Homo sapiens: one gene and its partner. The protein of the gene in region 1 interacts with the protein of each later gene in a biochemical or structural test. Each region holds a gene or a part of one and is shown on either strand. Other genes may lie near its edges.

Region 1 (7,026 bases):
CCAGCCGTCCCCCCAACCCCACAACAGGCTCACACACACATCTGGCCAGCAGCTTCCAAGCCTCGTGGGTGGCACCAGGTCCCAGACACCCTCAGCAGAGCAAAGTCGACAAGTCAGTCTATTCCGTCTTCCCCTCACCCCAAAAAGTTCCCACACCCCATGGTGGCACAAGACCCAGGAACACCCCTACACACATACTGCATTGGCTCCCGCACCCAATTCTGACGGTTCCCCTCACTCCACGGGGGACACCAGCTGAACCGGCCCGGCCCCCGGCCGGCTCCCTCTGGTGGGAGTGGGCCCCCTGGCTGATTCTCCCCAAACCACAGGGCAGCTCAGATAACAGGAGGGAAAAAGAGAGGGGGCTAGTCCGTTGAGCATCCGATCTCTCCCCAAACAGGTTTGAATTCAAGTCTTTTTGTTTTGCTTATCATTAAAGAGAAAAAGAACAGAAGTTCCCAGCGGCGGTTCTGCAACAGCTCGAGCGCGGGGGACACGCGCAGCAGACGGCCCCAGACGCCTCAAGGCTGCGCGCGAAGACACGGCGCAGGCAGACTCACAGACGGGGCTCCCCCACCCTGGACACGGCGGCAGCGAGTTGGGAAGCCCAGGAAACCCCGGGTTCCCGTCGGAAGCCTCCCGGTACCCAGTCCCCTCCCGCAGCACCAATCTGGGGCAGGACATGGGGCCCCGACGCCTGCGGGAACCAGGGGCTCCCCAAAATCCCCAGGGGAGGAATTACCTCGCAGCGGGGGAAGCAACCCGTTCGGGGTGCCAGCGAGCACAGCGTCTGCCCTAACCCGGCGCCCTGGTGCTGCTCGGCATCAGGGTGCGGGGTCCCGGGAGAGGAGCCGTCCAGGGGGCCGCGGCTCAGGGGCGCGGGGCGATGGCAGCGGCCATAGCGAGTCACGTGCGGAGGCTGAAACTTTACCCGGAGCCCCAGACTGAAGGGGCGGAGGGTACGGAGCAGAGGTAGGGGGAGGCCCTGTCCCTCAGGCCCGCCCCTGCCCGCCCACCGACCAATCACCAGTCAGGGGCGGATCTACAGGCTCACGCCCGCCCCCGCCTCTCCTTAATAGACCTCGGGAAGGGCGAGTCTTAAAGGAGCCACTCCTAGTTGAAGACTGGACCGTGGGAATCCGGGAGAATCCCTCCCTCAGACCCAGAACCGAAGATTCAGAGCAAGAACGGGGTGAGGTTCTGCGGAAAGAATGAAAATAGCGCTCGGTGGAGAAGACCGCAGCGTGTGGTATCCTACACTCCTTTCCCCCCAACCACACACACACCCACACCTAAATCTGAGAAGTGAGGCGGCGGCGTAATATGGAAGTGAGTGCGGTGACTCCTGCCCTAGCTGTCAAGCCCCTGAATCCTATAATTATAATCCTCTTCTAGGGACCAGCTGGAACTGAGAGCTGTGTGACCTTGACCAAGTCACTTCCCTTCCCTGGATCTTAATTATCTCAGCTGCAAGAAAAAGAAAAAAAAAAAAAGAGTCCAGGAGTAGATCTCCCGCAAGTATATCTCTTCTTTCCCCAAACACCTCTGCAGCTCCAGTGGGTCCTAGGAACCCTGGCTCAACCCAACCCTCCCAGCCCCCTTAAAGTACTCTTCTCCTCAAAGGGCAAGACTTTTGGATCTTCCAGTAGGGGCGCCCAGGAGCACCCCTCCGTGCTCAAAGACTCACACTCAAGCTTCTCTCTCCCGAACAAGTCTGGAGAAGCCAGGAAAGCTCTTTTTCATGTTCCAGCTGGACAGGATCTGAATCACCCTCCATCTGAGAGACCCCCAGTCCCCAATACAGTCATGACCCCCCTCCCAGCCTGCAGCTCTGTTTGGGAGGATCCTGTCCCCATCGCTAGCAGTCCACTGGCGGGCTTAGGGGGAAGCAGAATTGCTTAGAATACTCCCCTCTCGCCCTGTTCCCAGGCAGAGAAGTGGCCACAAGTGCCCCCACAGAACTTCCCACTGGAAGGGGAAGTGCTGCACTCCCAGGCCTCCAGCCCAGTGAGGAGACTCTCAGCCTGACCCGGTGGCAGAGCTCTCAAACCCACTGGTCCGACGGACCCCGCTTTACAAACAAGGAAAGAGAGTCCAAGAGCAGGCACTGGGTTTTGTGCACAGTCGCACCGGTTGCAGAGCCGGGTCTAGAATTGAAGTATCTGATTGTCCCTGGCTTTAGCCCAAGAGCCATGGTAAGGTAGGACAAGCCAGGATGGCGGGACCCTTTGCCCTGAGGGCCGGCGCACGGGAAACTGCCCCAGCAGTGCTGGGCCGCGCTTCCCCAGGCCCCTTCCCGCCTGCTGGGCCGGAGCTGTCTCCCGCTCCCGTCTGGATTTCCGTCCGCCGGTGCGAACCTCCCGCCCAGCCCCTCCCGCCCTGTCCTGTCCAGATTCATCCGCAAACATGCGCTCAGCCGGCAGGAATGCGCCAATGGCTCCCAGATGTGGACGCCACCGCTTAACCCCTTACCCCCCAGCCGCGCTCCCCCAAGGGCCTTCCAGCCTGAGCCCCGCCAACAGCAGGGAGCTCTGCCCAGGTGAGAACCAGCCCAGGACTGGAGTCAGCGCCAGCCCGCCCCTAGTGCCCACGGACACCTCCCAACCTAGATCCTACCTGTCTTCCTTCCTTGAGGCTGGAGGGGAAGGCTCATGGACACAAGAATGCAAGCATGCATGCACACAGCTACACTGCCTCCCAAGTGGGACGACCTTCAGGTACACCTGCCATCATAGGGTCAGGCATCCTGGTACAAATGCATTTCCACGTGCACATTCAGGGCAGGGATGTGTACATCCCCGACGCATGTATGCACATCCACGCATGAACAAGTACATCCAAACACATTTGTGCACAGACAAGGGCATGAAGCAGAGGGTGGGGCACACTTCTGCACAGACACAGAAGTAGCCCCATGTGTGGATGAGGGAAGAAATTCATACACACAAACCCACCCCCCGCAGGGGTCAGACACTCAAACAAGACCAGCACCCGTGTGTACAAACACAAAGCATGCACATCTTTGGGGCATTTCCTTCCTGTCCAGGGAAACCAGTACCACCTGTCCAAGGCCCAGCCCTACCCAAGCTTGACTGCAGAAGGCAGGAGAGGTCCCCAGGTGGGGGACCAGGAGTCTTCAATCTGCAGCAGCAGTTGAACTCCAGCTATGCTGGGCTCATAACAGGGCTTCCACCACCCCCTCCCACCAGGGACTCTGATGCAGGAGGAGAGAAGGGTACCCAGGGAGCAGCAGGAAACTAGCAGAGAGAGAAAAGCCACAGGCTCGGGGCGCCTCACTCTAAGAAGGACACTCCTTGGGGCCTACTGTTTCCCTGCACACAGGAGATAGGCTGGGGGAGGAGTCTGAGCCCCATCCCTCTTCAAACTAGAGGAAGTGAAGGAAGAGAGTCTGGACAGGTACCAGGGCCAGTGGCAGTTCTCAGTAGTCAAAAGAGATAAAATATAGCTCTGAGACACCCTAGGAGGGCCCACACTTCTAGTACAACAAGGCTGTCTTCTCACAGCCTGTGGAAACTCCTGAAGAACAGCATTAAGTGATACTCCGAAGAGATGATGAGAAGCAATTGGCCCTCCAAGACCATGGTGCGGGAGTTTGTTGGAACCAGCTCCAGCTGACTCCTCTTCCCCTCCCAAGCCTCCTAGCTCATCCCAAAAGGAGCTCCTCCCACAAGTACCTTAATAGTCCCACTCCATTTGATTCTCACAGTCCTGAAGGGGCAGGCTCCTGTTGCCATTGTAGAGATGAAAAAACTGAGGCTCAAAAAGAAAATTGCCTTCCTCAACGTCATACAGCTTGTCAATGGCAGGGCTGGGATTCAAACCCAGGCCAGGTATGGTGGCTCACACCTTTAATTCTAGCACTTTGGGAGGCCAAGATGGGACGCCAGGAGTTGCTTGACTCCAGGAGTTCAAGACCTGTCTGGGCAACATAGCAAGACCCTGTGTCTTTTTTGTTAAAATAAATAAATATATACGTGTGTGTGTGTGTGTGTGTGTGTATATATATATATATATATATATATATATATATATATATACACATATAAGCATATATATATATATATATATACATATAACCCAATCAATGTTCCCTCCTCAACTCTTTCCTCCCCTACTTACTCCAAATCAAACATGTATGACTCCACTCTGTGCCCTGCTACCTTTTCCTTCACCCCTTAGTGGATCACAAGGGAGAAGCGCCATCCTTGCCTGGCTCTGCAGGTTTATGGGTGGGGCCAGGACATGCCAGAGAGAGATCAGAGAAGACACTGGGGGCTGCACACATAGCCCTCCACCCCCACCACAAGCCTGGTGCCCACCTGCCTAGCAGGCATGGCTGGGTGACTCAGCTGCATCCGGGGGAGATGCCAGGGCAGTGACTCACCTACCGAGAAGAGCTGAGCCTGGCACCTTGCCAGCCCCAGGACAGAAGTGACTTAGTCACCACCAAGACTGTGATGCCCAGCAGGCACAGCCCAAGGATTGCAGACAGGGGCAGACTGTCCCTCCATGGTTACATGCGCCCCCTGGCAAAGAATGGGCCTCAGCATTCTGGGGCCAGCAATGTCTGTGCCAGCCCCTGCCCCCTCACCACTGCCCACCCCCACCACACCAGGCCCCGCTCCAGTGCCAACAAGTTTTGTGAGACCCCTGTGCTGCCCTGCCCCCACTGCAGCCTGCCCATCACTCACCACCCACTCTCCCACCTGCCCCACCTCCTCCTGCCACCCAAGTTGTACCCAGGCTGTGAGTCTCCTTTAACATGTCCTGGCAGCACTCCCTGCCCCCACAGCCCCTCTCACCCTCTCCCCTCATATACACATGCACTCAAACACACTTCTGCCAGCCTTGCTTCTGCCAGCAGCTGCTGAAGTTGTTGAGCAGGAGGGAAATTGGGAGGGTGGGGTGCAGGGATTGAGTTACCAGAGCTGATGGGGTGGGCTGTCACCCAATCCCTTCCCCAGCTCGTCCCCACCCCCACCCCACCCCTCCACCCGCCATATCCCTCACCCACCTGCCTCCCTCCCTACCTCTGGCTGGCAGCCTACTGCCCTTTAAGCCCGTCCACCCAAGCTAGAAAATAAATGTTCAAGAGTATTTGTCATGTTAAGACCAGCCTAGTATATGAGAGAGAATGAGACAGAGACCAACAGAAAGAATAATTCCTGTGCTCAGTGCTCTGGCTACAACCACTAAATATGTGTATGTTGAGCCAGAAGGGGACTGAGCAACTCCGCAAGTCCCAGAAGAGTTGGTGGGGCCCAAGGAGAGTTGACAGGCTAAACAGCCTCAATCCATTTGCACTATTGATTTCTCACACACTGCAGTAGGCTTGATGGGGGGTATGATAAATCAGCCCCCAAGAGACACAGAAACTGCGTAGAGAGAAGGGGAGGGGCTTCTGAACCACAATTGGTGGTGCACCATGACTTGCTTGGTGCGTTGGGGGTGGGCAGCAGAGGAATAGGAGATGTTGAGTGGCATGAGGCAGGGTAGGGGAGAGGGTGTTGGATTAAGGCCTGTCTGGAACACCTCCTTCCAGGTGGGTCTGAACTAATTTGAAGGAAGAAGGTGGGAGACAGATGCACCACGTGTGGCTACACAGGCAGGGCCTTGAACAACCCCAGGGGGTGCCATTCACATCATAGTCTATGGAATGGTTCCCCCTGCAGCTGTGCAGCATGGTGGCCTGTGGGGAGAGCCTGAGGCAGAAGACAGAAAGCAGACTGAATTCTGAGGGACCACAATTCTCCATTGAGTTTTCTCCCCATACACACCCCAACTTGCCCCAACTTTCCCTGCCTCCAGGCCTCAGAGGGGGCCTCCTTCTGACTAGCGATCAGAAGCCAGTAGTAATCTCCCCACTCCTCAGCCCTGCTCCCTTCTTTTGTTGGGGAGATGGGCAAACAACCACCATGACCCACAGGTCCTGGGCAGGGCAGGAGGAGGGCTCACAAAGGGCTCTGGGGAGTCTGGACGTCCCTTCTGTAAGGTGTCTCCTAGCCCCACAGCTCACCAGCCTGTGAGCCTGCTGGAGCCTGTCCAGCAGCTCCATTCACACCAGTGGCCACAGGCCACCCAAACAAACCCAACTCTGACCTCCTTCTAGCCTGGACACAGACTCTTTCCACATGGAGACTTATAAACAAACCAAGCTGGGATTTTCAGAGACCCTGCACAAAAAAGCAGATGGGAAAATGGACCAGGTGTGCCTGGCTCGTGGTCCTCCTTGCTGCAGTAGGGAAGGGAAGCACACTGAGCTGTGGTGAGGAACCATGACAACAGAAAAATGGTGCAAAGGGAGGGCCTGGGTTCAGGTCTCAACACAGCCAATGACTGATTGAGTGTTCTCTCTAGGCCTCAGTTTCCTTCTCTGCAAGGGGAAGGGATTGCCTAGGTAGCCTCTAAAACCCCTTCCAGCTCTGAGTCCAGCTGGATAAAGAAAACCCTGTAGGGTGCCAGGACTCTTCCACCCAGTCCAGCCCGGCCCATCTACCTGGGTCATGCCCCTCTGGGTAAGGTCCTGCCCCTGCTCCCCATGCCTCCTTGCTGTCTTCTGCCCCTCTGGCCCTTCCTCACTCCTCTGCCTGCCTGCTTACCCTCACCTTGGCCAGCCCCTCTGCCTGCCCCGTGCTTTTCTGCACGTCCCTCCTGCCAGGGGACTGACCAACTAAAAATAGTCCCTGCAGCCTTTCTCGCCCACAGCTGCCCAAAGAGCAGGAAATGAGGGGGGCAGGGAGGCCCATGCCCTGCCTTACCCCCACTAACTCCCAGGTCAGAATCATGTCCAGCACTCCAGCCTGGGGCTAGCGCCAACTTGGCCATCCTGGGGGCATCCCACACCCCTTTCCTAGGGGGAGGCCTGCCCATAAGTGCCTGCAATCACAGAGCTGCCCCTACCCTGCGGGAGGAGGAGAAAGGAGGCAAGCGGTCTAGAGGGAAACCTTCCCAATTTCTGACAAATCAGTGCCAACCACATTGTGGGCACCCAAAGGGCAGGGCCTG
Region 2 (7,026 bases), on another chromosome or scaffold:
AGCATGGTACTGGTACCAAAACAGATATACAGACCAATAGAACAGAACAGAGGCCTCAGAAATAACACCATACATCTACAACCATCTGATCTTTGACAAACCTGACAAAAAGAAATGGGGAAAGGACTCCCTATTTAATAAATGGTGTTGGGAAAACTGGCTTAGCCATATGCAGAAAGCTGAAACTGGATCCCTTCCTTACACCTCACACAAAAATTAACTCAAGATGGATTAAAGACTTAAAGGTAAGACCTAAAACCACAAAAACCCTAGAAGAAAACCTAGGCAACACCATTCAGGACATGGGCATGGGCAAAGACTTCATGACTACAACAACAAAAGCAATGGCAAAAAAGGCAAAATAGACAAATGGGATCTAATTAAACTAAAGAGCTTCTGCACAGCAAAAGAAACTATCAGCAGAGTGAACAGGCAACCTACGGAATGGGAGAAAATTTTTGCCATCTATCCATCTGACAAAGGGCTAATATCCAGAATCTACAAAGAACTTAAACAAATTTACAAGAAAAAAACCACCCCATCAAAAAGTAGGCGAAGAATATGAACAGACACTTCTCAAAAGAAGACATTTATGCAGCCAACAAACATATGAAAAAATGCTCATCATCACTGTCGCTAGAGAATTGCAAATCAAAACCACAATGAGATACCATCTCACACCAGCTAAAATGGCAATCATTAAAAAGTCAGGAAACAACAGATGCTACAGAGGATGTGGAGAAACACGAATGCTTTTACACTGTTGGTGGGAGTGTCAATTAGTTCAACCATTGTGGAAGACTCTGGCAATTCCTCAAGAATCTAGAACTAGAATTACCATTTGACCCAGCAATCCCATTACTGGGTATATACCCAAAGGATTATAAATCATTCTACTATAGACACATGCACACATATGTTTACTGCAGTGCTGTTCACAACAGCAAAGACTTGGAACCAGCCCAAATGCCCACCAATGATAGAATAGATGAAGAAAATGCAGCACATATATACCATGGAATACTACGTAGCCATAAAAAAAGATGAGTTCGTGTCCTTTGCAGAGACATGGATGAAGCTGGAAACCATCATTCTCAGCAAACTAACACAAGAACAGGAAACCAAACACTGCATGTTCTCACTCATAAGTGGGAGTTGAACAACGAGAACATATGGACACAGGGAGGGGAACATCACACAGCAGGGCCTGTCCAGGGGTGCAGGCCTAGGGGAGGCATAGCATTAGGAGAAATACCTAATGTGGTTGATGGGTGCAGCAAACCACCATGGCACGTGTATACCTATGTAGCAAACCTGTACGTTCTGCACATGTACCCCAGAACTTAAAGTATAATACAAAAAAAATTATGGTTAAGTAATCTACCTTCTATAGTCTACAACCTATAATAACTCCTATACCAACAAGTTAAGGAGGGGAAGATAAATTTAGATGTGACAGCCTAAGGACACAAACCATTTAATCCTCTCTACAGGTTTTCAAACCTAGAATCTTACCAATTGCTCTTAATACAAGTATATGTCTGACTGACAATATATAGATTACAGTAAGTCTTCATGTAATGTCATTGGTAGGTTCTTAGAAACTGCCTTTAAGCAAAAGGAAGTATAGTAGCAGGTCTTTGAATAAAGTTGTTTTCATTTCATTATAACAGTGATGAGGGGGAAAAATAAGTTCAGCTTGCAGATCAGCTTGGTACTGCCCATTAATCTCATTGTTACACTTAAAGTCCTTGCAATGTTAAGTGAGCTCTGATTAGGTCTATGATTCTCCTTGAAATTAGTTTCCACAAGCTCACCTACATAGACACAATCCCAAAAGATGCAGGACAGACTTTGCTTCATTAAATATGTACCTCGTAAGTAATGATTTTCTGGATGGTAACTAAGATAAAATGACTGATTTTATTTTACTAAATAATTACCTACCCCTCCTCCTAAACCAAGAGGGGGCTCTTCCTCAAGCAAGAATACTAAGTTCAAAGTATTTTAAGTTATGAATTTATGGTCACAACAGAGGACATCACACAAAGGAAAAAACCACCAGGTCAAATGCAAATAAACCGGCAAATAAAATTTTCATTATACAATTATCGCTTGCTCTGTGGGAAAATGCTCAAGAGTATAGGCTTTTTTTTTTTTTTTTTTTTCATTCAAAGATATCAACATCAAAGTAAATTGGCAGGGGTATATAGCTCAGTGGTAGAGCATCTGACTGCAAAGTAAATTTGAACTTGAATTACCATAAGTCTTGCCACCATTCTTCTCAGCTGTCAAATACATTGCTAACACTAGAAAATCCATAATCTTATTTTTCTACCCTGCCAATACCCACTACCAAAGAGACAGTAAGCTAAGATTCTCATATAAATTCCTCCACAAAAAGACTACTCCATCCAACCATATGAAACTGCAGTTGTGATCCCTAGTCCTGAAAATCATCAATACTTGTGATGTTTTCATAGGTTACCAGTCTGCTTTCAAGCAAAGCCCATCATGTTAAGCAATTCTAGAAGAGTGGCTGATAGCTAATGTGCTAGAAAGCAACCACCAAAAATATCAAAGGCCTCTAACTAGGGTAAACGGGTGATTCCAGTATTCAAGGAAAAAGCTAATTATACTTGGCATGGGTTGCATTTCTTTTCAGCTGCTCTTAGTCACCCTATATACAACTTCGTAAACAAAGATAGTCATTAACTTCTGGATAACAACGTGCTTAAGAATGTACCGCTGTGTGTGGTATAAGCTAGTGTACCTTTCAGCAGACTGCCAATGAATTCTTCATAATGGGATTTAGCAGTACACTAAGATGATATTCAAGAACTGTACGCAACTGTAATGCCTCTTTTCTTAATAATGGCCCTCAATCAGCCCTTGAAAATCAGTGCAACAAAACTTGGCCATCTGTTCACAAAACTTTCAAAACTGAAAAATAATAATCTACCATATAATAAGATATTTTAATATAAAAAAAGATTATTTGAACAGTCTAATTCAAGTTTCAACTGTTTTCAAGTCTTTAAGTCACATAACTGAAAATTCCCATTTCTATCTTGAGAAAAAATATTTCCCAGCAGAGGAATCTACGAGCGTCTATGATGGATGGTTTTAATTTTATATCCTAGGAGTTTTAATGCTGATGAGATTAATGAGCAGTACCATGCTGATCTGCAAGCTGAAAAGACAAATAAAAGATAGTGAAGGGGTAGGAACAGAATCTCCCCTTGTTCTCTGGAAGCAGCCTTTTGTATCAGAGTAGGAATTCCCAGGTTACAAGAATAGATTCTAAACAAAGCAACTAAGAATCATATAAAACAAGTCAATGGATTGACTGTAATCTGGCAGGGTCTCTGCCTAATCACATTGTTATTACTAGGTTAAAAAGCAAAGGGCTTGCACCTGACAAAAAGGGCTAACGAAAAGCCAACTGGATCCAACACAAAACAAACTTGTCAAAACCTTCTCTTCACCACCAGTAACGTGTCATTACCAAAATAATCACATTGATGGTAAATAATTTGTTGTATCTGCAACTGGAACTCAGCAAATTCTAACCTGGGCCCAAGTATTATATTACCCATCTCCGAATGTGACATTCTATCTAGCACCATCCAGACGAGAAAGCAGAGCAAAAGACTCTAGCAATGGAAGTGTTTTTTTTTTTTTTTTTTTTTTGAGACAAGGTCTTGTGCTGCCCAGGCTGGAGGGCAGTGGTGCAATCATGGCTCACTGCAGCCTCGACCTCCTAGGCTCAAAGCAATCCTCCCACTTCAGCCTCCCAAGTAGCTGGGACTACAGGTGTGTGCTACCACACCCAACTAATTTTTGTATTTTTTGTAGAGATGGGGGTCTCAATATGTTGCACAGGCTGGTCTCAAACTCCTGGGCTCAAGTGATCCTTCCACCTCAGTCTCCCCTAAATTGTTAGGTTTACAGGCATGAGCCACCACACCAAGCCTAGAATGGAATTCTTAAAACTTAACTGTATACAGACTTTCACAACTCAAAGAAAAAAATCTGAAAAACTGAAATTGGCCAAGAAAGCTTTACATATTGTTTTTCTAGTTCCTCTAAGCCATAAGGGATTATAAGATGAGTAAAACAAATACAGATTTTTTAATTCTATTTTTTAAAAATTGTTTCAGGCCTGGCGTGGTGGCTCAGGCCTGTTATCCCAGCACTTTGGGAGGCCGAGGCAGGCAGGTCACTTCAGGTCAGGAGTTCAAGACCAGCCTGGCCAACATGACGAAACCCCATCTCTACTAAAAACACAAAAATTAGCCAGGCAGAGTGGCATGCACCTGTAATTCCAGCAACTTGGGAGGCTGAGGCACAAGAATTGCTTGAACCCAGAAGGCAGAGGTTGCACTGAACAGAGATCGCGCCATTGCATTCCAGCCTGGGTGACAGAGCGAGACTCCATCTCCAAAAAAAAAAAAAAAAATTGTTTCAGCAACCTGTAATGTTTTGAGTTTTGAAAAAATGCTACGACTAAAAACTCAGAACAGATAAATGATTAGTTTTCTCTTTCACTTTCAGGCCTCAAACATCACTGTTCAATAGCTTTTTTTTTTTTTAAACAAACCCAATGATCAGGTATGTACCCACACAGCTTGTCCATGTAACTACCTTCATGTCGTAGCCATATGTCTCTCGAATGTCTTCATCAGAGTCTGTTTCTTCATCATCATAGTCCATTGTTTGTCGAGGAGAAGATGACACACTGCTCACCACCCGGTTAAAAGCAGACTGCTGGAAACTAGGTAAGTGTCCCTAAACAACAAATAATTCCAAGATGAACAGCAAGACATGCTAAACAGACAGGGTAATTAATGTGTGCTTAAGATCACCAAAATGTAATGAATAAGCAAAGTGGCTAACAGAGTTCTTCAACAGTTAGTAGAAATCAAATTATTTGATTATGATGCCAAAGTCCACCTGAATGATATTACCAAGAATATTTCACTAAGTACGTATCCAAAAAAAGTGCTATAGTGTATGTTGAAGGAGAATGCAATGGATAATTGCTGACAAGTTACTGTTATTTTCCTAATCAATTGGTAAGACAGACTCAATTTACTATTTATACACTGACATATCCCATGAAATAGAAAAAGAATGTAAATCCTAAACTTGCCTGTAAGTCTGGATTGGCAGCTGCTTTTTGGAGTTCTGCACTGATGATCTTTTCAGTTTTTTCTCGAGCCGCCTGTTCCACCATACGCTGGCTCAACACAGATAGTTTGGCCAGGGCAGAGGATAGTTCATCTGTGGCTAGAGCCTGCCGCGCTCTATCTTGCCAACTCATAGCACGTTCTGTCAAACACTGCAGGGCCTCTCCTTCAGGCAACCGTACGGGCAACTTCTGAAGGGATACCAGGAGTGACAGAATAGTCTCTAGCCTGGGCCTTCGAGACCGCATACAAAGAGGGCAAAGGAATTTTACTTCTTTAGCTTGCCAGCTGGATCCTTTTTTTTGGGAACTTGATTTAGGAAGAGGAACACAGCTGTTATGGAACCAGTCTTTGCAGAGCTCACACTGTAGCATAAACCCACTGGCTGTCTTGCGGCAAATGCAAAATTTTACTTCTTCTATGCGGTCCACCATTGTCATCTTGGCTAGGTTGGCTGCTCTGAGAGAATGCATGGCTTCAATCTCTTTTTGCTCCCGTTCTTTGAAAACTGCCACCTGTACAAGACAAACATTTAATTGAAAAGAGTCACTGCAATATACCCCCCAAAATACCAAATCCTCAAGGCTGTGGGATCTTTCTCCCAAGTTATCAGTTATAAACAGTTTCCTAAAATGTGGGGCCCCTGGCGGTTTCCATGCAAACATTCCTCAAGTGTGAAATGGGCAAAGTGCTATCATATTTGATCATGTACATCAGTACAGTACTTTGGCCTCTTCTGTAGGGTGCGGTACAAAGATGGCATGCCTTGAAATCAAGCAACCTGGGTACAAAGCCTGGCTCTTGTACTTTTAGACTGTTAATATGGGGTACAAGTTTCAGAACGTCCGTTTTCTGAAAAATGAGAATACTACCAACCGTATTTTGCTGTTTTACGGATTAAATAAGATAACATATGAAAGTGCCTAACCTGGTACCTTGCACAAGGTAAACACTCTTAAAGTATTAGTTTCCTATCACCTCGTAATTCATTCCCTGGGGCAAGTCCTACACAAATTAATTTACTTCTCTCTGGAAAGCCTCTTCATGTATAAGTAGAATAACAAAACTTGACGATCAGTTGTAACAACAGAGTTTTATGAAACTCATTTTAACAAAGTAAATAAAGGCAAACAAATTTAATTATCAATACTGTCAGTGCATTTTCTTGTTAAACTACTGGCAGCTTTGAAACAATTTTGAAATAATTTCCAGTCCTACTTGTCTAGCAAGATTGACTTGTTAGGCAGGCTCTCTAATCAGAGAATATTTTCACTGGCTTCAAAACAGAATCATTTGTAGGCAGAAAGAGCTATATCACATGCAATTCCCTACTTTTATTGTCCAGATTCGTATTTATTTTCCATTTCCTCAGGCTCCTAGTAATCTTAACACATTCCTCCTATCCTCCAAAAAAGCATAATTCTCATCAACTACAAATATTTTAACACTCATTAAGAGATGGAAATCTGTAGCCTGGTATAATTCCTTTGAAAAACACAATAGTAATAAGAGTCATAAAATGCTTATATTAAATTCTAACCCAGTAATTACATTCCTAAGAGTCAAGTCTAGGAAATTTAAAAGAAGGAAAAGGTTATAAAAGAAGTTCATTTTATTACTTACAATAAGAAACTTAGTAACAGGCAAAATGCTCAAAATTAGAAAACTACAGCAGGTCCTCAAATAACATCTTTACGTTCAGTGTAGTTTCATTATAACACTGATGAGAAAAAAATCAATTCCTGGCCAATGCCACTGTCACTCACTAATTTACCAAAAACTGGATAATTATTTCGTTTTTATTACTCTTTCTTAAATGTAGGTTTAGCTCGAA

The links. Proteins that work in one complex are often made in the same cells at the same time.
Region 2: the proteins of RARA (region 1) and KDM5A form a complex in vitro, tested with the Homo sapiens proteins (one study listed by BioGRID).

The regions. Positions count from the first base shown.
Region 1 is NC_000017.11:40,312,165-40,319,190, reverse strand, and holds part of RARA (retinoic acid receptor alpha), read right to left. Parts: intron 3,999-7,026; exon of another isoform or gene 440-3,998; intron 1-439. UniProt on the Homo sapiens protein: Receptor for retinoic acid. Retinoic acid receptors bind as heterodimers to their target response elements in response to their ligands, all-trans or 9-cis retinoic acid, and regulate gene expression in various biological processes.
Region 2 is NC_000012.12:302,299-309,324, forward strand, and holds part of KDM5A (lysine-specific demethylase 5A), read right to left. Parts: intron 5,708-7,026; coding exon 5,156-5,707; intron 4,792-5,155; coding exon 4,648-4,791; intron 1-4,647. UniProt on the Homo sapiens protein: Histone demethylase that specifically demethylates 'Lys-4' of histone H3, thereby playing a central role in histone code. Does not demethylate histone H3 'Lys-9', H3 'Lys-27', H3 'Lys-36', H3 'Lys-79' or H4 'Lys-20'.